Regions from separate parts of the Homo sapiens genome. Here region 2 is linked to region 1. The links come from fine-mapping of genetic effects on gene expression. A gene starts in region 1. The other region holds a variant in brackets. All regions are shown on one strand. Distances are from middle to middle. Region 1 holds the start of ABCA4 (ATP binding cassette subfamily A member 4). Region 2 overlaps ABCA4 (ATP binding cassette subfamily A member 4).

What was found. PIP is the estimated chance that this variant, and not a neighbour inherited with it, causes the effect.
Region 2: its variant is fine-mapped to the expression of ABCA4 in testis (GTEx, PIP above 0.99).

What each region holds. Positions count from the first base shown.
Region 1 is chr1:94,116,788-94,127,179 of GRCh38, reverse strand. ABCA4 (ATP binding cassette subfamily A member 4) reads left to right here and starts at 6,032. Exons shown (of 50, transcript NM_000350.3): 1 at 6,032-6,200. The coding sequence starts at 6,135.
Region 2 is chr1:94,011,985-94,021,023 of GRCh38, reverse strand. ABCA4 (ATP binding cassette subfamily A member 4) reads left to right here. Exons shown (of 50, transcript NM_000350.3): 36 at 1,265-1,442; 37 at 5,170-5,285; 38 at 6,334-6,481. Among named protein-coding and RNA genes, the nearest start is that of ABCA4, 100 kb to the left of the region's middle. RefSeq lists an enhancer at 1-278. The variant G/A (reference allele first, on the strand shown) is at 4,676.

The DNA of each region.
Region 1 (10,392 bases):
GAATTTTGGAGATATTTTTTCTGGAAAAATTCCTCTTCTCTGTGCCAAATGGTTTTGAAATATCCATCACTTCTCTCTGATGGTAAACTATGTGATATTGCTTCTATTTTTTAAAACAAAGGAAAAATATTTTTACAGTTCCACTTTGAGGCGCTTTAGAAAGAATTCTGGTAATGCTGAGTGAACAATAAATAAATTTTAAACAAAAGTCGATTCAGAATTGGAAACAAATATTTCACTTGATTCATTGGCCATGAAAGGATTTGGAGAATCAGATGATATCATTTTAATGTTTTTGTAACCTATGAAAGCACTTCCGTTCCAGCTAGTAATGTGCAATGGTTGATGTATTTTGAACTTGCCACACATCTTCCTACTTGGCTTGACACTGCTTAGCAAGTTTTGAAAACTTGTAAGCCTTTTCTTAAGAGATGCAGGAATTGCTGATATTGGGTATTTTGGATTTCTTTTACTTTCTTGAAGATACTCATGACAGTACCTCTCTTCTTTAAATTCTGCTGCAACTCCATTGGATTATGTTAGTATTTATAATACTTATATTATTATTGCAATCATGGACCTACCCAGGAATTTTATTCATATACTATGGAAGCCAAATTTGAACTAATTTAGGCAAAAGGAGGTTTTATTGAAAGGATTGGAGTGTCTTACTGCTAATCTGCCTGAAGAGGAGGGAACAGCTGTCTCCCAGGGACAGCTGGAACCAGGGACTCAGCTACAACTGGGACCTATGCTCTCTACCTCGGCCTCTCTGTGCATTCCCTTCATTCTCTGTTACTGCAGATCAGATTTCTCCTAGTGGTGGGGAACACAGCCTCAGGTCCTCTGCTAGCCTATATGGCATTTTTATGCAAATTAGAAAAGGTGCTCCTCTGGGTGGATGCAGCCTCGTGGTTGTATAGTTTGGTGAGCAGAAGACGCCTTTGTGAAAGGAAAAAGGTACCTCCTTTGATAGGATGCAGCCCTATACCAGGGTCCCGGGCTTGTTTAGCAAAAACAAGTGAAATCCAGTCCCCAGTCTTTGCTTAGGCCCCTACGTACACAAACTGAACCTAGTGACCCAGCATGGCCTCTAATTTCTCAACACTTCTGTACTTCTGTAATGATTAACCCATGCTTCTCACAGATCCATGCCCCAAATTTCTGTGAATAGGCCCTGACTGGCCCAGCTAAGATCATGTGACTGCACATGACCAGTCCACTTTGGCATTAACAAGCCTACTGCAGACTCTTCCCTTGGTGTTGGAGTCACTCCTAGAAAAGAGCAAATCTTTGTGAGCCAGGCAGTCAACCTGCTGGCAGCTTCCACTCAGCCTTGGAGTTTTTTCTATGTGTAACTTTCATAAACTGAGCCTTATTTATTTATTTTTTGCACTATCATCTCATGAAATATTATTGCGTAAGCTGAGGAAACATGTTATTCATGATGACTGGAGTTTCAAGTTTTAATTGTACAATGATTTAGTTTTGAGTTTGGTAGAAATAAAATCAAATTTAAAAATCAGATATTTTTCATCTTACATTATGATGTCCCAAAACTGCCTTTATGCTTGTGACATAGATTCATAATGTCTTCTCATTCCACCTGTAATCACTGTTTGAAATAAACATATGTCTAATGATATATTTGGGGACATTCTATTTTCTTCAGCTTGTTGCAAGTGAATTGATGGTGATCTTTTGGTATTGGTTTCATTATCAAATTTATCTCCACTCCAAAATTACAGTAATTTCAAAGTAATTTAGTCTATATATTTTTCCATAGCTTTTCTTCCAAATAGAAACTGTAAAAAGTTATAAATTACTTCTCTCCACTACTGAATTTTTGTTTGCAGAATAACTGATGTAAGTAGCAGAATGCCTCTTCCTAGTTCAACCCTCAGGAATAGAAGTGAGAAGATCTTTAAAACTTCACCATTTTCCTTGACTTGTTTATAATTCTGAATGTAAATGTGAATTGATATGGTCTATCGCTTAACACCACAACTCTTAATCTATGTGCAGGGTCGTAGCTCAAAACTACTGCCAGGACCACATCAATTTCATATTCACCCTGATCAATGTGTATTAATGGTGATAACTATGAGAATGAAATGTACAGTTATCAGTATCATTTTTGACTCACTAGGTATATCCTCAGAAATATATGAAAAAACTAAACACAGCTTTTAGTTTGACATAATTTTTAAACAACTGGAGTTACCTTGGGAGAAAAATCCTACCAAATATCTATAATATTGAAAGAGTAAAAAAGAGTTAAATGTCCTTAACATCATTAATCATTAGGGACATGCAAATCAAAACCACAGTGAAATACCATCTCACACCCTTTAGGATGGTGGTGATAAGAAGAAAAACAGAGCATAACAAGTGTTGGCCAGGATGTGGAAAAGCTGGAACCATTGTGCACTGCTGATTGGAAAGTACAATGGTGCAGCTGCTAAGGGAAATAGTATGGTAGTTCTTCAAAAAATAAACAGTTATACCATTTGATTCAGCAGTTTCACTCCTAGGTATATACCCCAAAGAATTGAAAGCAGAATCTCAAATATTTGTACACCTATGTTCATAGCAGCATTACTCACAATAGCCAAAAGGTGGAAACAACCCGAATGACCCTGGATGGACGAATGGATAAACAAAATGAGGTCTATACTGACAATAGGATATTAATTGACCTTAAAAAGGAAAGAAATTCTGGCCGGGCACGGTGGCTCACACCTGTAATACCAGCACTTTGGGAGGCCAAGGCAGGCAGATCACCTGAGGTTGGGAGTTTGAGACCAGCCTGACCAACATGGAGAAACCTCATATCTACTTAAAATACAAAAAAAAAAATTAGCCAAGCATGGTGGCGCCTGCCTGTAATCCCAGGTACTCAGTAGGCTGAGGCAGGAGAATCGCTTGAACAGGAAGCAGAGGTTGCAATGAGCTGAGATTGCACCATCACACTCCAGCCTGGGCAACAAGAGTGAAACTGCATCTCAAAAAAAAAAAAAACAAAAAAAACAAAAAAAGAAATTCTGACACATCTGCTATGGTCTAAATTATGTGTTCCTCTAAAATTCATAAATTGAAATCCTAACCCCCAAGGTGATGGTATTAGGAGGTGAGGCTTTGTGGAGGTGATTAGGTCATGAGGGTACAACCCTCGTGAATGGGACTAGTGCCCTCATAAAAAGAAGCCCAAGAGAGACCCCTTTTCCCTTCCACTGGATGAGGTCACACCAAGAAGTTACCATCTACATGTCAGGAAATAGGCCCTCACCAGACACCAAATCTATTGGCACCTTGATCTTGGACTTCCCAGCCTGCAAAGCTGTGAGAAATAAGTTCCTGTTGTTTATAAACCACCCAGTTTATGGTATTTTGTTATAGCAGCTCAAACAGATTAAGATGGCTTGCTACAACATAGATGAACTTTAAAGATTATGCTTTTCTATGATTCCACTTAGATGGGGTACCAAGAGTAGTCAAGTTCATTGAGACAGAAAATAGAGTGGTTGGCAGGGGCTAGGGGGAGGGAACTCTGGGGAGTTAGTGTTTAATGGATACAGAGTTTCAGTTTTGCAAAATGAAAAAGTTCTGAAGATGGATGGTGCTGATGGCTGCACAATATGAATGTATCAACACTACTCAACTGTACACTTAAAATAAGGTTCAAATGATACATTTTATTTCATGTGTGTGTCAATCTCAACAAACAGATTTGTTCAGGCAAGGAAACTGGTTAGATGCGAATAATACTATTAGAGCATCATCAATTGAATATTAACAAAGTGCTCATAGTTTAACTTTCTAGCTCAAGGAAGAATGGACCATTTTGAAACTATGACAGAACATTACTTATATAGCTGATGTCTTTGGGAATTGGAAGGAGGCATATTCCTTCACCAGCTGTGGCTCCCCTTCAGCAACCTCATATACTCTCCAAGCTTCTCTTTCCTGGGTCACCTGTTTAATCACTCCCGGGACTTAATCTTCCACCTATATGTTGACCACTCACAAATCTATGTCTCCATCTCACAAGCTTATTCTTGACTCCAGACCCAAGTATTCAACTGCCTGCTGAATACGTGTGGTCAGATGTCATAGAACTTCAGCTTCAGTATATCAAATGCAAACCCCTGTTCCCCCCAACTGCCTCCTACTCCCCACTGGCCTTCCTCTGGCATTCCCTCCTCAGTTATGAGCACCACCGTCTCACTAGCCAGCCAGTCAAGCCCCAAACTCCATCTAGCTGACTTCTGCCTCTTCCTCACCACCCTCTTCCAGTAACTCATCAGGCACTGCTGTGTCTCATTCCTTCCTATCCCTCCAGTCCCTCCCCTTCTCTCCATCATGGCTGTCACTGCATGGTTCAGGCTCTCTGGCTCCCCCCAAACCACCCCCACATTGCTGCCGAGGTGAACTGACTACTCTTGGCAGCCACTGGATTAAAATCTTTCATCATCTTCAGCATGATAAAACCCATATCCTTTAGCATGTAACAAGGTCTTAATGATTCTGCCAGAGCTTGCTTGGGGGTAGCCTGCACTTGTGGGCCACTCCAGTCACTTCACAGGTGCTCAGTAAATCTCAGTTGAATCAGTCATCATCATCATCATCATCATCATCATCATCATCATCATCAATTTTTCAGTCTGGTTCCTGTCTCCTTTTCCAGCATCCTCCATTCATAGCCTCATAGCCTTCACTCCAGCCATGTTTCACTTGTGGTTTTCCTGGGCAAGATAAGCTATTCCTCCCTGTCTTTGCAGAGTTTAAATGACTCACTTGTTCAAGTACCCACCGTTGCCATGTGGGACCGTGAGCAAAGTACTTAATCTCACTAAGCTTCACGTTCCTCATCTGTAAAACAGCAAATATGGACCTCACAAAATTGTAGTGAGGCTAAAATGAAATAACATATGCAAAAGCAGTTTATAAATAATAAACTTACTATAAAATATTATTTTGTAATTCTGCAAGCTTGTCTTAAATGCCATCACCTCCAAGGAGCCTTTTTGCCATCATAAGCAGAAACTATCTCTCTCTTCTTGGAAGCTCCACCATGCACAGCCTATGGGCCCTCATCACACTCCTTGAGTTATTCGAGTTCAAGTCCCGTGTTTACAACCAGACCGCAAACTCTATGAAGTCAGCATCCATTCCTCTCTGTGGTTCTCCCTCCGCCCCATCCAGGTCTCAAGGGTCTAGAGTCTTTCAAAGAGAACACATTCTGAGATTTGAGGAGGCAGAGACAAAAAGTTCCACTGCGAAGTGCCAGGGAGGCTTCTGTTTGGGGTGTCCCTTGGGATCACAGATCCCCCACCTGGTGATGAGTCAACCCAGCACCACCCCATTGCAGGGCTGGAATGACAGTAATGGGCCCACCTGCTGCCTCTCCTCATACCCGCACCCCAGTCAGACATTGCAAGTCAGTCACGGCTCTGTCCTGCTGGGCCTGGAGTGTTCCAGTGCCTTTTCCATCACAGCACCAAGCAGCCACTACTAGTCGATCAATTTCAGCACAAGAGATAAACATCATTACCCTCTGCTAAGCTCAGAGATAACCCAACTAGCTGACCATAATGACTTCAGTCATTACGGAGCAAGATAAAAGACTAAAAGAGGGAGGGATCACTTCAGATCTGCCGAGTGAGTCGATTGGACTTAAAGGGCCAGTCAAACCCTGACTGCCGGCTCATGGCAGGCTCTTGCCGAGGACAAATGCCCAGCCTATATTTATGCAAAGAGATTTTGTTCCAAACTTAAGGTCAAAGATACCTAAAGACATCCCCCTCAGGAACCCCTCTCATGGAGGAGAGTGCCTGAGGGTCTTGGTTTCCCATTGCATCCCCCACCTCAATTTCCCTGGTGCCCAGCCACTTGTGTCTTTAGGGTTCTCTTTCTCTCCATAAAAGGGAGCCAACACAGTGTCGGCCTCCTCTCCCCAACTAAGGGCTTATGTGTAATTAAAAGGGATTATGCTTTGAAGGGGAAAAGTAGCCTTTAATCACCAGGAGAAGGACACAGCGTCCGGAGCCAGAGGCGCTCTTAACGGCGTTTATGTCCTTTGCTGTCTGAGGGGCCTCAGCTCTGACCAATCTGGTCTTCGTGTGGTCATTAGCATGGGCTTCGTGAGACAGATACAGCTTTTGCTCTGGAAGAACTGGACCCTGCGGAAAAGGCAAAAGGTAACAGTTACTGTCTGTGGTTTAAAAATGAGGTGTGGAGCAAATAAACAGGTTGGAAGTGTGGGGTGGGGTGGTGGGGTAGGGTGGTGGGGCAGGGTGGGGGGTTGTGAGCAGTCAGTGGGCTTGTCGCCGATTAGCACTGAAGCAGTGTTTAGCTGGACGGCCTTTCTGTGGGCCCCTCTGACAGTGCCCTTCCCAGGAAGATGTGTTTCTCTGTCCTCAGCCACATGAAAATCTTTTGCCTACCGTGCCTGTCAATCCATTGCCTGCCCGCCCCTCCCCCACCCCCCGTTTTACACCTGCCTGTCCAGTCTACCGCTCTCTAGGGCATCCACGCTGAGCAGTGGGAAGAACTTTAAGCCCTGAAGAGCAGGCCAAAGGCAAGCAAGAACCCCCTCGAACAGCTTCCCAGCTTAGTGAGGCCTTATTTCATTGATTCTCTGAGGCACATTGTTTTTTCACATGTTAGCATTTCTGAAATTGGGATGCAGCTCACGATCAAGTCACAGTTTAACTGGACACATTATTTTTCTTTCTTAGTGGTGCAGAAAAGTAACAGTGTGTCTTACAATTGACTGCGTCCTAGATTCTGTGAGATGCAATACGTTATTAACCATCACGCACATTTCCTGAACTCTTTCAATGAGCAGACACCAGCCTGGGTTAGACTGGAGCCCTAAAAGCACGACACAGATTCCACCCTGGACTGGCTTCTGTTCTGCCTGGGAAAACCCAAAGTACGTTTGGAGACCAAGAGCAACATAAAGTAGCATAGGTGGAATAGTCCATGAGAAGTGCGAGCAAAAGGTGCCGGAGATCAGAGAACACCAAGACTGTACTTGTAAATGACAACTGGCTTTGTGCAATTTTTTCTGGGAAAGGATAAGGAGTGACTATAGAACTGTAAAGAAAGAATGCACTTTGCTACAGCCTTGCAGAGTTGTGCAAATGCCGATGACTAAAGGAGCTGAAAGAGGAAGGAGGGGATAAGGGATGGGGGCTGGGTAGGGGTGAGATTAGGACCCTGGGAGCTGCAAGCCACTGGAGAGATCAGGAGGAAAGGGAGGGAGACCTGCTTTAGGCGAGAAGAGAACAGTATTTGTTCCAAATCTCGGTTCAGAATAAGTTCATGTAGGTGATGGGGCCAACTGGAACAGGTGAAGGCCTATGAATGAGTGTCTCAGTTAGGGTCTCCTTAGAGTTTAATATGAAAAGGTGTTAGCTAAGTACAGAGCTGGTACCTGAGAGAGTAAAAGGAAACTCTAAGGTATCATGGAGGTAGCAATTGCAGGACACAGCTCCCACCCCTAGGGCTGAGAGAACCAAGGGAAGAGACAGGAATTATTAAGACTTGGAGCATAGATGAGAGGTCTGTGGAGCTGACATTAGGACTTGGGAGGAAGGCGTGCATGGAGGCTGCTGCTGGATCTCTGAACCTGACCTCGGGTCTGGACCCCTGAGGAGAAAGCCCTGGCAGGTTGGTGCATGTGGGGCCGAGGGACAATAGCTTAACAACCAGCATAAAAGAGAGCAGCATGGGACACGCTTCAACCATGCGCATGGATGGCTCCAAAACCTGTGTGTGGCTGGCCCAGGACGCAGGGAGGCTGCAGGGGGAAGAGACAAGTTAAACCTGACTTGTCTGGGAAGCACCATTGTCCTCAGGTCACTTTCCTCTGTCAAGCCTGGTGCTGAAGTTATCTGTTGTCTCCAGGGGCCAAGTATTAAGAGTAATCAGAAACTCAGTCCTTTCTTCTAGGAGCTTCCCTTCTTGCATGAAAATCCTGATAAAACTGGAAAAAAAAACCTCATGATTAAATTTTTTCATGTATTCATTCTTTCCTTCTATCAAAAAATAATCTCCAGGCACCGTGCTAGGTTCATTGGTATACAATGGCAACAAGACCTCCCAGCCCCTGCCTATGTGAGGCATCTGTGGACTGCGGAGGAAAATCCAATATGCCATTGTTCTCTCTTTCCCATAAGAAATTACAATTCTCAGTTCATTTTATTCTCACTGTGCTCTTTGTGACCCTCAAAGGGGGTCACATGATAACAGGACTGTAGCTGCTGGCCTAAAATGAGCCCATTCCTGTGGCGCTCATGTCGCTGTGACAGAGAATAACCCTGTTTTCAGAATGCTCTGGTGCCCTCCCTCTCAATCTGGCCTTTCGCTGGCATGGGTGGGCGACTCCTGCTCAGGGACTCTGCCTTCTCCACAGTGTGCTCCCAGGGAGATGGAGCCACTCGGGCTGAGGGCCTTGGCCAGGGCACCTCCCAGGGCTGGGCCTGGTCTGGGCTGGCGTTCACTGGATGCCATCCTGATGGCCTGGAAATTGAGATTTCTGTCTGGCACGCCTCCCGATGGCTCCCCACCTGCTACCACATTCCAGGAGCTTCCAGGATGTCTGGGTAAGACAGAGGCACCCCCAACAGATTCAGTAGCTCTGAGAGGGATCTGTGGCTCCTTCCTAAGCTTGCGGTTCTTCTGGAAACTTCTGCCTCTAGAAGATGGTCCCTCTAAGAAAAGTACAACCACCCAGCCCATAATTCAGCTCCCAGGTTTTCCCTCAAACCTCCATGTCTCCTGTAAGCAGAGCAAGAGTAAAATCAGATACCAAATTTCCTCATTCCTCAGCTCCCAATCCCTAAGGGCATAAGATGAAAATCTTCAGATCTCTGCTTTCCTCCCTCTTTTTTTCTTCCTCTGTTAACATTTGTCAAGTGTTACTAAGTGTCTGGCACTGTACTAAGTGCATCACCTCCCTGAACTCTCCGAACAGTTCCACGAGAGAGGCCTCTCTGTGATCCCCCCGGTACTGATGAGGTCACTGAGGCTCCAGAGAAGGATTAGTAACTGGTGGGGTTGGACCTGGGATTCACACCCATGCTGCGTGACCCAGGACAGGCAGGCATGGCCGTTACACCACACTGACCCCCGTGGATCGAGATCTATCCAATAGTCTGGTCACTGATATCACTAAGATAGAGTGGCCATATAATTTATCATCCAATCAGGGCAGTTTTGCAAGTGAAAGGGAGCACTATTAATAATTGCACTGGGACAATAAATGTAAACCAACACTGGACCTGGAAAACTGGGACGTGTGTTTGCCCTATACCAAGGTAAGCTAGACACAGCCACTGCCTTCATGGAGTTCAGAACCAGGCAGGGGCGGCTCCCACGTATAATTACTGTGCAGCACAACGTGGAGACCGTGGAGTAGAAGGAAACACGGATGGGAGGTGAGGAGGAGGTCTGTGAGCTCAGAGGAGGCACCGGGGCTGGAGAGGGTGAGAGAAGACTTCCCAAGGAGTTCATCCTGATAACGTGCATTCCCAATGACGAGCGCTCTCTCCACTGCACAAGACAAGTATACATCTGCCCGTGTTGGCTGTGGACCTGGCGCTGTGTCAGGGAGGGTTTATGAAGATCACTAGGTGGGTCTCTTGGTGTCATCCCTTCATCCCAGCTTCTGGGTTAGGATGGATATCTGTGGGGGGGCCTGAGGACTCATGAAAGTGGGGCGCTAATCATGTTTTGGACACCACACCCTGGAGCACCTGGGACAGCTGTGGCCTTTGTCCTGGGTTCAGCATCAAGCCGAGGATGTGGCAAGTAAAGAGAGGCTGGGCACCAACTCCAGTGTACCCAGGCTCCGGGTCATGTTTGTCCAGGCTAAGAATTCTGTCCTGGTTCTCAGTGCAGAAGGAAGAATCATGGGGCTCATTTTAGGCCTTGGCTGCCTTCTGTTAAATTGAAAACAGAGCAGGAAGGAAGAAAATTTAACAGGCTCAGTTCTAAAACAACAAGCACAACTGTGCCCTTGCCAGAAACCCCTCCTCCCCATGTTGATTGAATGGTAAAGAGAGGAGGGGAGGTGAGAGGGAGAGAGAGAGAGAGGAAGAGAGAGAGAAAGGAAAGAAAGGAAAGAAGAAGAAAGAAAGAAAAGGAAAGAAAGAAAGAAAGAAAGAAAGAAAGAAAGAAAGAAAGAAAGAAAGAAAGAAAGAGAAAGAAAGAAAGGAGGGAGGGAGGGAAGGGGAAAAGAAAAGAAAAGAAAAAGAAAAAAAGAAGGAAATACCAGTTTGGGAAAAAAGAATTTTCCACCAGCCCTTCTGAGCCTTGGCTGGGCTTAATTAAAGTTACAGACATGTGTAAAGGGCAGGGTAGGGGGAGTCTGAGCTGCTGAGA
Region 2 (9,039 bases), 110 kb after region 1:
TTTACATTTGGTTCCATTCCCTTTTGGCTTTTGATAGCAAGTTGCTCCTGGAGCTTATACAATTATTATCTTTGCTATGTGCAAAGCAGCTGCCAGGAACTGGCAAAGTTCAGTAAACCTTTCAGCTCCCTCGGAGTAATTATCTTAGATTCCAGGAATTTCCTCAGAAGAGCATACTTTGGAGATGTCGACAGAGCTTTGCTACCCTCAAGCTGAGGCTCTTCTTGCACAGTTTCAGCCAGTGGAGACAGTGGCCTTGTGCGTTTTGTAGTATGTTCACTCTATTTGAGGCCTACATGGAGGAGGGGTTGGTAGGAGCACCTTTGTTAGTGCAAACTTCAGCAACGTTGTGGGGTCCTGATTTTACTATCCTAGCACACGCTGAGTGCCAGTGAACATGCCCAGGGTCATCCACTAAAACCTGGGCCTTGGCTCCTTGGTGTCTTCCTCTGGACACCCTAGGGCCCTAGACTGTCCTCTGTTAATTCTCACTCAGCCACACTTTCGTGTGTCTCCTTCCAGTCATTTGTTCTAAGCTTACTACGTGTATGGATGATATGATCTGTAGTTTTATCAAGGTAGTGACTACCACATAGGATACCTTTGTGGAAATTAGTAAAAATGCTCTTTTCTGCAGGTGGACACTGTCCCATGCCAGGGGTTATGGCTTGTACATAAAGTTCAGGCTGGCTTTAGCCCCAACTTACCCCTCAGCCAGATGCCTTCTATTTGTCCGAGGAAAGAATAAATAGAGCCAAGTCCCTGTACAACTTGCCTGCCCTCTTTTCACTTAAATTTACATCATGAACATTTCCTTGTGTTACGATGTACTTCTTGAAAATGTGATTTAACAAGATGATTATTAACAAAAGATAAATCTCACAGACCGTATGTCTGTCAACATAGAAAATTCAAGAGACTCTATAGACAGATTATTAGAGCTAATGAGAGCATTGCAGTACATAAGATTAATATAAACATCTATTTCTATACACCATAAAAATAATTAGAGAATATAATAAAAAGAAAGGTTGTCTAGAAATATTCACATGAAATAGAAAGGCAACCCGCAAATACCCATTTAACCTTGGTCCATATGGATTAAGACAGTTTAGTGGAGTGACAGCTTCAAGGTAGAGAAGAGGAACCTGGAGGCCACACCTGGGCGGGTGTAAGGCCTTCCCAAAGCCTGACTTTGTATCTTCTCCTCCTTCTGCTCTTCCCTCTTCATCGCCCTCTCCCTGTGTCTCTGGCCCTGCTGCAGGCTGACCACTTCAGTGGATGCTGTGGTTGCCATCTGCGTGATTTTCTCCATGTCCTTCGTCCCAGCCAGCTTTGTCCTTTATTTGATCCAGGAGCGGGTGAACAAATCCAAGCACCTCCAGTTTATCAGTGGAGTGAGCCCCACCACCTACTGGGTGACCAACTTCCTCTGGGACATCGTAAGTGTCAGTTTACAGCGCCTCCCTCCCCTCCGTGGGCCCAAGGTGGAGCTTGTGTGTGCTCTGAAGGACCAGACCAAGAGGGGAGGGGTTCTCACGGTGCCAGGGCTGCTGAAAGGCACTGGGCCAAGGGCCTTGTGTATCTGCTGTCCCTTGACATCTTCTCAGAAAGGCACAGAACTAGGAGCCCGAAGCTAGGAAAGGCTGTGGGGTGCAGCTTAACAACTGGTGAACGGGGGCTCTCTATGTCCTGCACTGAGGGGTCTTCTGACCCATCAAATAATCACTGCACCGCAGGCATGAGTCTGGCCTTCCTGGCATCAGTCTGGCGCTGAGAAGGTAATATGAAGGGGTCTTTCACCCCAAGTCCCCTTCTCAAATCCTGCCCCACCTTCAAAAGGGTAAAGGTAAAACTTTCCCTGTGGTAGGGTCACCAGATAAATACAGGACACCCAGTTAAATTTAATTTCAGATGATGAATAATTTTTAGTATAAGCATATGCTACTTCAAATATTGCACAGGACATATCTACACTAAAAAAAAAAAAAAAAAAAAAAAAAACCTGGTTGTTTATCTGAAACTCAAATTTCACTAGGCATCCTAGATTTTTATTTGCCAAATCTGGCAACCCCAGCCAGTGGCCAAAATAATAAGACCTTCACTTATTAGATTAACCACCGCTACAGGGAAAAATGAAGAAAAAATATTTATTAAATCAATAGCACACTACCACCTTCCTGACAACCAAGGTTGGTGGGGGTAGGGAGGGGTCAGGATAGCGTACCCTATTACAGGCTGCAGGGTCAAAGGAATTGGTAGTAAAGGCCTAGTTATAATGTAACAGGGATCATTATGACATCAACCCCAATTTATTCTAGGTGTCTTGAGTAGTAAAATCTCAACATTTTAAGACCAACATGAGCCTCCATTTCATGTGATGATAAGATATACCAACTGATGGAGACCAACACAAATGACCTTCTCATCCATGGTTTTTTAAAATGATGGTGAATATTGGAATTCCTGAAGATATGATTTCTATCTTACTCAGCTTAGTAAGCAGCTATCACTTAACAATACAAAACCAGAGATTATCAGTAGCAACTAAATTATTTCCTCTCTCTTCTGTCTACACGAGGAAACACTCATAAATGCACGGGGAGGAGGTCAGAACCTGAAAGCCTTTCTTTGGATAAGAGCATCAACTGCAGGTACCACATTGGCCCTGTGATGCTAATATAAAAGGAGCTAGGCCCACCGGTACCGAAAAGTTACTTAGAAAAGTGCGGAGGCTTTTAATTTTACTTTTTTTAAAAGATAAGAAATAGAATTTACACACTTGGGGCTGGCCCACGTGTTTCTGTGTGTGTGTATGTGTGCACGCACGCGCGTGTGCGCTTACAGGGATCTCTGAGCCTATGGAGAGAGATGTAGCTAGGATAGAGTGGACATCTGAGGTGGGAGGTGATACTAGCTGGCAGTCCAATGAAGGGGTAGAAGATGGTAGGCATCATGTTAGCAGGCTTTCTGATGCTCCAGAATTTTAAAGCTGGCCTGGAATCTCACCTCCGCGATCCATCATTTTGGAACTTAGGACCACCATTAGCCAGTGGCAAAAAAAAAGTTGAATGAAGGAACAAACAATTATTGCTTATGTAATTCACTTAGCACATATATGATGTTTTAAATTCTTATATGTGTCATCTATTTTTCTTTACTTTAAAATTTTGCAACAGTTACAGACTTATGGAAAAGTCACAAGTACAGTTGAAACCTTTTTTTCTTAGTCATTTGAAAGTAACTTCTCAGCAAGATGCCCCTTCTCATTTATTTCTCTCTTCCTGTCTCTCTCTCTCACACCCCTCAGCACGTCCGATGTATACTTCCTACAAACGAGGATACACCCCATACAACCACAACACAAACTGTCAACATGAGGAAACCAGCACTGATGTGTCATCACCACCTAATCCTCACACCCCACTCCTCTTTCGCCCATTGCCCCAGTGATGTCTTTCAGAAAAAAGGATCTAGCTCAGAATCATGCATGACATTTGATTGTGCTGTTTCTTTAGTCTCGTTCAGCCTGGAAGAGTTCCACAGTCTTTTGTTAACACTCATGGTCTTGACACTTTGAGGACTGCAGGCTGGTTATTTTGCAGAATGTCCCTTGGTCTGAGCTTGTCTGAGGTTTCCTCTTGCCCAGGTTGAGGGTGTGCATCTTGGCAGCAGTATCAGCAAACAGATGCTGTGTTCTCACTGCATCCTATCAGGTGGCTTCTGATTTCAATTTGCTCTGTTACTGATGATGTTCAATTCGGTCACTTAAGAAGGTGTCTGCTGAGCTTCTTCACTGTAAAATTACTCTTTTCCCCTTTATAATAAATACAAATTTCAGGTAGAGGCACTTCAAAGATATATAAATATCCTATTCATTATACAATTTTCCATTTATTCATCCATTTATTTATCTCTGTATGCAGTCATGGTTCATGTGTTAATCAATGGACTATGATCCAAGACTATCATTATTTATTTTGATATTCACATTATCCCCACTGTGGTCAGTGGGGGGCCGTTGAAGCTGGCTTCTGTATCGTCTTGACTTGGGTCCTCATGCCCCTGGACCTCCTCCATGCTCAATGGCACAGCAAGATATTCCAGGCTCATCCTTCCATTATCCCCATTCCTACCCTCTCCCCAAGAAGCCCTGGTTCCTGCCAGTGGGAAGTGGCCCTCAGAAGCCAAGGTCTGAGTGCTAGATATGTTCATTGCCTCTGGAGCACCATTGGTCCCAGGCCTTCTCAGTGATAGAACTAGGGAAGATATGGATGTACACACACAGGTATGCACACACCTCTATCTATAGTTCTCTATCTACCTATACAGTGAACACTATGAGCTCTCCAAAACCAACTCCACAGGGCTCATTCTAGTTTTTTTTCTTTCCACATCTGTAACTCCCTTCTCCAACAGTGAGACGCTGGCTTCTCTCACTCCCAACTCATTTATCTACCGGACCTATACACCTGAACAGTGCCCAACTCTGCCACCATCCCCTCCCCATGTGGATGCCGTCCTCTCCCTGCTCCAGCTGCCTCTGCTGCATGCAGGTCCTCCTCGTTCTGCTCTGGCTCTGATACCCTGCACCAGATCAGCCTCCTGTAAGGATATCTTTCTCATCCCGTTGAGGCCTCCACACCCCACGGCAGGTTGCCCCCTGAGGAAGCCC[G/A]TCTCTGGTTCTTGCCCTGCTCCTGATCACCATGGCTCCTCCCCTAACCCCACTGTTGCCGTCCCCTTTCTGTGCCCAGTATAGTGGCTGTAGGACTAAATTGTTTAAAAAGGGTATCATTATTTATTTGAGCTTTGTGAAGCCAAGAACTAGGCTTTAAGTTTTTCTGAATTCTGAAGACATGCTTAGAAAGAAGAATCAACAAAACTTTATGACCAAATAGAAAGAGTGAGAGACCAGGCAGAATTTTGTAATTGATCCTTTCAAAAGATACAAACTAAAGGTTCCCTTGGCAGGGAGGTAGGGCATGGGGTGGGGTAGGAGGACTAGTGACAGCTTAACATATGTTTGCCAACCAAGAACTGTTTAAAAAGCAAGTCGAATCAGAATCCCAGACCCTACGAGCTGGAGGAGCCTGGCCCCACCCCTCATTTTGCAGAGCTGGCAGCAGGTCTGAGAGGTTAAGTGACTTGCTCTCCTCTTCTCTTTCCGAGATGAATTATTCCGTGAGTGCTGGGCTGGTGGTGGGCATCTTCATCGGGTTTCAGAAGAAAGCCTACACTTCTCCAGAAAACCTTCCTGCCCTTGTGGCACTGCTCCTGCTGTATGGGTAAGCCGTTTGGGCCATTAGCTAATGCCTCTGAAGAGAAGCCTGGTGGTGGGGGTGGGGGATCATCTCCTGACAGAAAACCTGGGCTGTCCTGTGGTGGTAGCACCCACAAGTTTAGCTTCCGGCCCCAGGTAGGGTCTGAAGCTGATAACCAGGGATCTGTCTGGCTTCTGATTCTGACTCCACTGACAGAGGTATCTCTGAGGCCTGGTCCTGTCAGTGACAATGAGAGAAGTCCCACATGATCTGAATCTCCTACTCAAACTGAGGCCTTGACCAAAGCCTGGGGGCAGCCATTCCCCAACCCCTCACCCAGCTCTGACTCTCACTCATCTGTGGCCAATCTGTCCACCTCAGTGTCCCCATGTGAACTGGCCAAGAGTTACCGCCCACAGTAGAAGACTCCGGCCAAAAAGCTCCTCCTGAGTCAGGGACAGAGGATGACACAGGGGTTACATCAGCAGAGTTACAGGGCCCAGCATGCAACTTTCTTTCCCACGTGTGTAAATTTGAATGAGTAATTCATCCATCTCGGCCTCAGTTTCCTCATCTGTAAAAGAAAATAGTGATCCTGGTCCTTCCTCTGTGGGCCAGTAGAGCCTTGCCAAAGCATTGTTCTCCACATCTTTCTCTTGGAAATAGAGAATTTGGGAACCAACCTGACTATAAGCTGTGAAGATGAGCTCACTGGGCTCATCTGAGATGACCTCAGCTGGGCTTTGCTGACCCAGGCTAGAGTGGGAGGTGTTGCAGGCTGGAGAACCCTCCTATGAATTGTACAGGGCTTTGTAGTTTACAGAGTATATACACAGCTAGCAGCCCATTTGCTCCTCACAAAACCCCATGAAGTGGTCAAGGCAGGCATCATTATCTCCATTTAAAGTTGAGGCACAGAGACCAACAAATGGAGTATCTCTCTGGTCCCCTGGGACTCTGGCCAGTTCACACACATCACCTCAGGTGTAAGGGGAGTGCATTATATCCAGACGTATTGTAGGTGGAATGGAATGTGGAACTCCATCACTCTGAGTTGTCTCATTTCACACAGATGGGCGGTCATTCCCATGATGTACCCAGCATCCTTCCTGTTTGATGTCCCCAGCACAGCCTATGTGGCTTTATCTTGTGCTAATCTGTTCATCGGCATCAACAGCAGTGCTATTACCTTCATCTTGGAATTATTTGAGAATAACCGGGTGAGCATAACTTTCTTGGCTTTTTTGTTTGATTAGTAGGATAGTAGAGTATGTGTTGGTCGAGCAGAGCCAGGGGCAAGCATCGTACATGTAGCAGCTGTATGCGGATGAGTGCCACTTTCTTCCTCCCTACCCCCGACCCTGCCTCCTTTCCTTCCTTCCTTCCTCCCATCCTTCCTTCCTCTTTCCTTCTTCTCCTCCCTCCTCCCTCCTTCCCCCGTCCCTCCTTCCTTCCTTTTTCATTGCTTCCTTCCTTCCTTCGTCCCTCCTTCCCTTCCTCTTTCCTTCTGCCCTCTCTCCCTTTTTCCTTTCATCCTCCCTCCATCCCTCCCTCCATCCTTCCTTCTTTCTTCCTTCTTTCCTTCCTATAAGCACCTTTTTCATTTCTGTGCTCTGAATGAAATGGTTTTCTGTGTTTATTCTGCAAGCAAAACTTGATTCTTGCAATAAACTTTAAGCTTTGCTTACTCTTTCAGAAAGGTTTTCTCAGGGACTTTGGGTGTTGGGTTTTACACACACACACATCAATACATTTGGGTAATTTCAAAATCTAAAAGGAACAAAAAGGCATACAATGAAAAAATCTCCTTCCTACCCCTGTTTCCCACTCATGCAGTTCTCTTCTCCAGAGGCAAACTCTTACTTGAGTTTCCTGTGTGCTCTGGAGACACATCAGCAGATCCCTATACGGTCTTTCTCCCGCTTTCTTATGGAAATTGTAACACTCTGACATATACTATTCCTTGGGCAAGTTAATCTTGATGAAGAGACTGGGTGTTCTCCATGCTGAATGCCTCACTTTTATGAGCTGCCAAGCCCAGTTGTCCCTTCCACCTGACCTCCCCCTGTCCAGAGACAGATGGCCAAACTGAATCATAAAAAGAGGGGGAAAAAAAGAAGGCAGTCGCTGCAGGGCTGTCTTTACTCCACACTCCACACTCCCAGTCCCCACCGCTGTGTCTGAGTCCTGGCTGTGGCTGTCCTTGGAACATTTGCCTCACCACGTGCCTGTGTCCCCAGGCGCCTCAACCTTTCCTCTCCTCATTAGCTCTTCCCAGTTCAGAGGGTGGGACCGGCCAGCACATCTGCACTGCTGCCCTGCCACACCCACCTCCACCTGCCTCTGGGCCCCACTGGGGAACACAGGACAAATCTGTGCGGAGGCCCCACCATGAACCGCCCAGACCCGTGGACCCCTGAGACTGACTCTTTCCAGATCTTGTTAGGGTTTCGTGGCTGCTAGGCAAGTAACGAAGCCTCATCTGTCCCATGAATGATAAGAAATTCAGCATGTCAGAGTCAGACTCTGGAAAGGCGGGGGGATAAGAACACAGCCCCAGCAGATGGCCAGAGCACCCAGGTGACTGAAAGTGCTGCTTTGCAGAGCTGTGTTTGCCACAGGCTCACAGCCCACTAAGTCTTAAGACAGTTTTCCTTCAGAATAATTAAATAGCCAGCTTAAAGCAACTCAGAACATTTTCCCCTCTGAGGCTGCACCCATTTAGCCAACATTTGCTAAGCACCCGCCTTCAAAAACCTGGTATTTTCATGTAAATTATCCGATACACAGCTGCTATGGAAACCCCCAGTATCCCACAGGAAGCTCCCCAGCTCCCAGCAGCTGCCGGCCCGTGTGAGATCAGGAGGTCTTTACCAGCTGAACACCACGTGCCGGGTGTGTGCTGATATAAACAAGCGTGGCCCACTCGTCCTGCCCTCCAGAGGCTCCCGTTCCAGTCGGAAAAGGACCTGCCCACGAAGTTTGCAACGATATAAGCCACAGTGTATGATCCTCCATAATACAGCGTGTGACAGAGCAGCAGAGGAGCGAGGCAGATAACATGCTGCAGGCCAGAGGCAGCGGGAAGAGCCAGGCTGCAGGGGCTGGGGGAGCCGTGGTGGAGGAAGTTCAATTTCAGCCTGTAGATTTCTATTAGCCCATTTAATAAATAATGAAGTGCCTACTCTGAGCTAATCATTGTGCAGGTATTTAGGAAGGACAAAAAAATAATTAGGACTCAGTGCCCACCCTCCAGGGGCCCACTGACTAGTAGAGAAAGTAGGCAGATTTTTAAAAAATTAATCATGGGAATGTGATAAGTGCTGGGAGAGAGGAATGGATACTTTCTCATGGGAATCTTGGAAGGCTTGTAAGGGAAGGCACTCTCTGAGCCAGCTGTCTAAAGAAGAACAGGAATCTTTAAGAAAGCAGAAGGGAAAAGAGCATTCTTTCCTGCTTGGAGCAATAGGTAACAGCCTGCACATGCCCAGGCCTAGAGGCCAAAGAGCACAGTGATTCCAGAAAGAGTGGGGAGAAAGGGTAGGCAGGGAAGGATGAGGTAATGTGGGCGCAGGTGTGGAGGCTGGAGAGGGAGGAGGTTGTGGGACTGGGAGGAGCCAGATGGAATGGACAGCAGTGGCCCAGCCAGGAGCTATGCTGGCCTCGTACGCCTCGATGTCCCTTCTATTTTCTCAGGGGAGGCTCTGCCCAACATGCCAAGTCCGACCACTTGAAAACAAGTCCCTGGCTTAACACAGACCCCAGAGAGAGTCTCCAA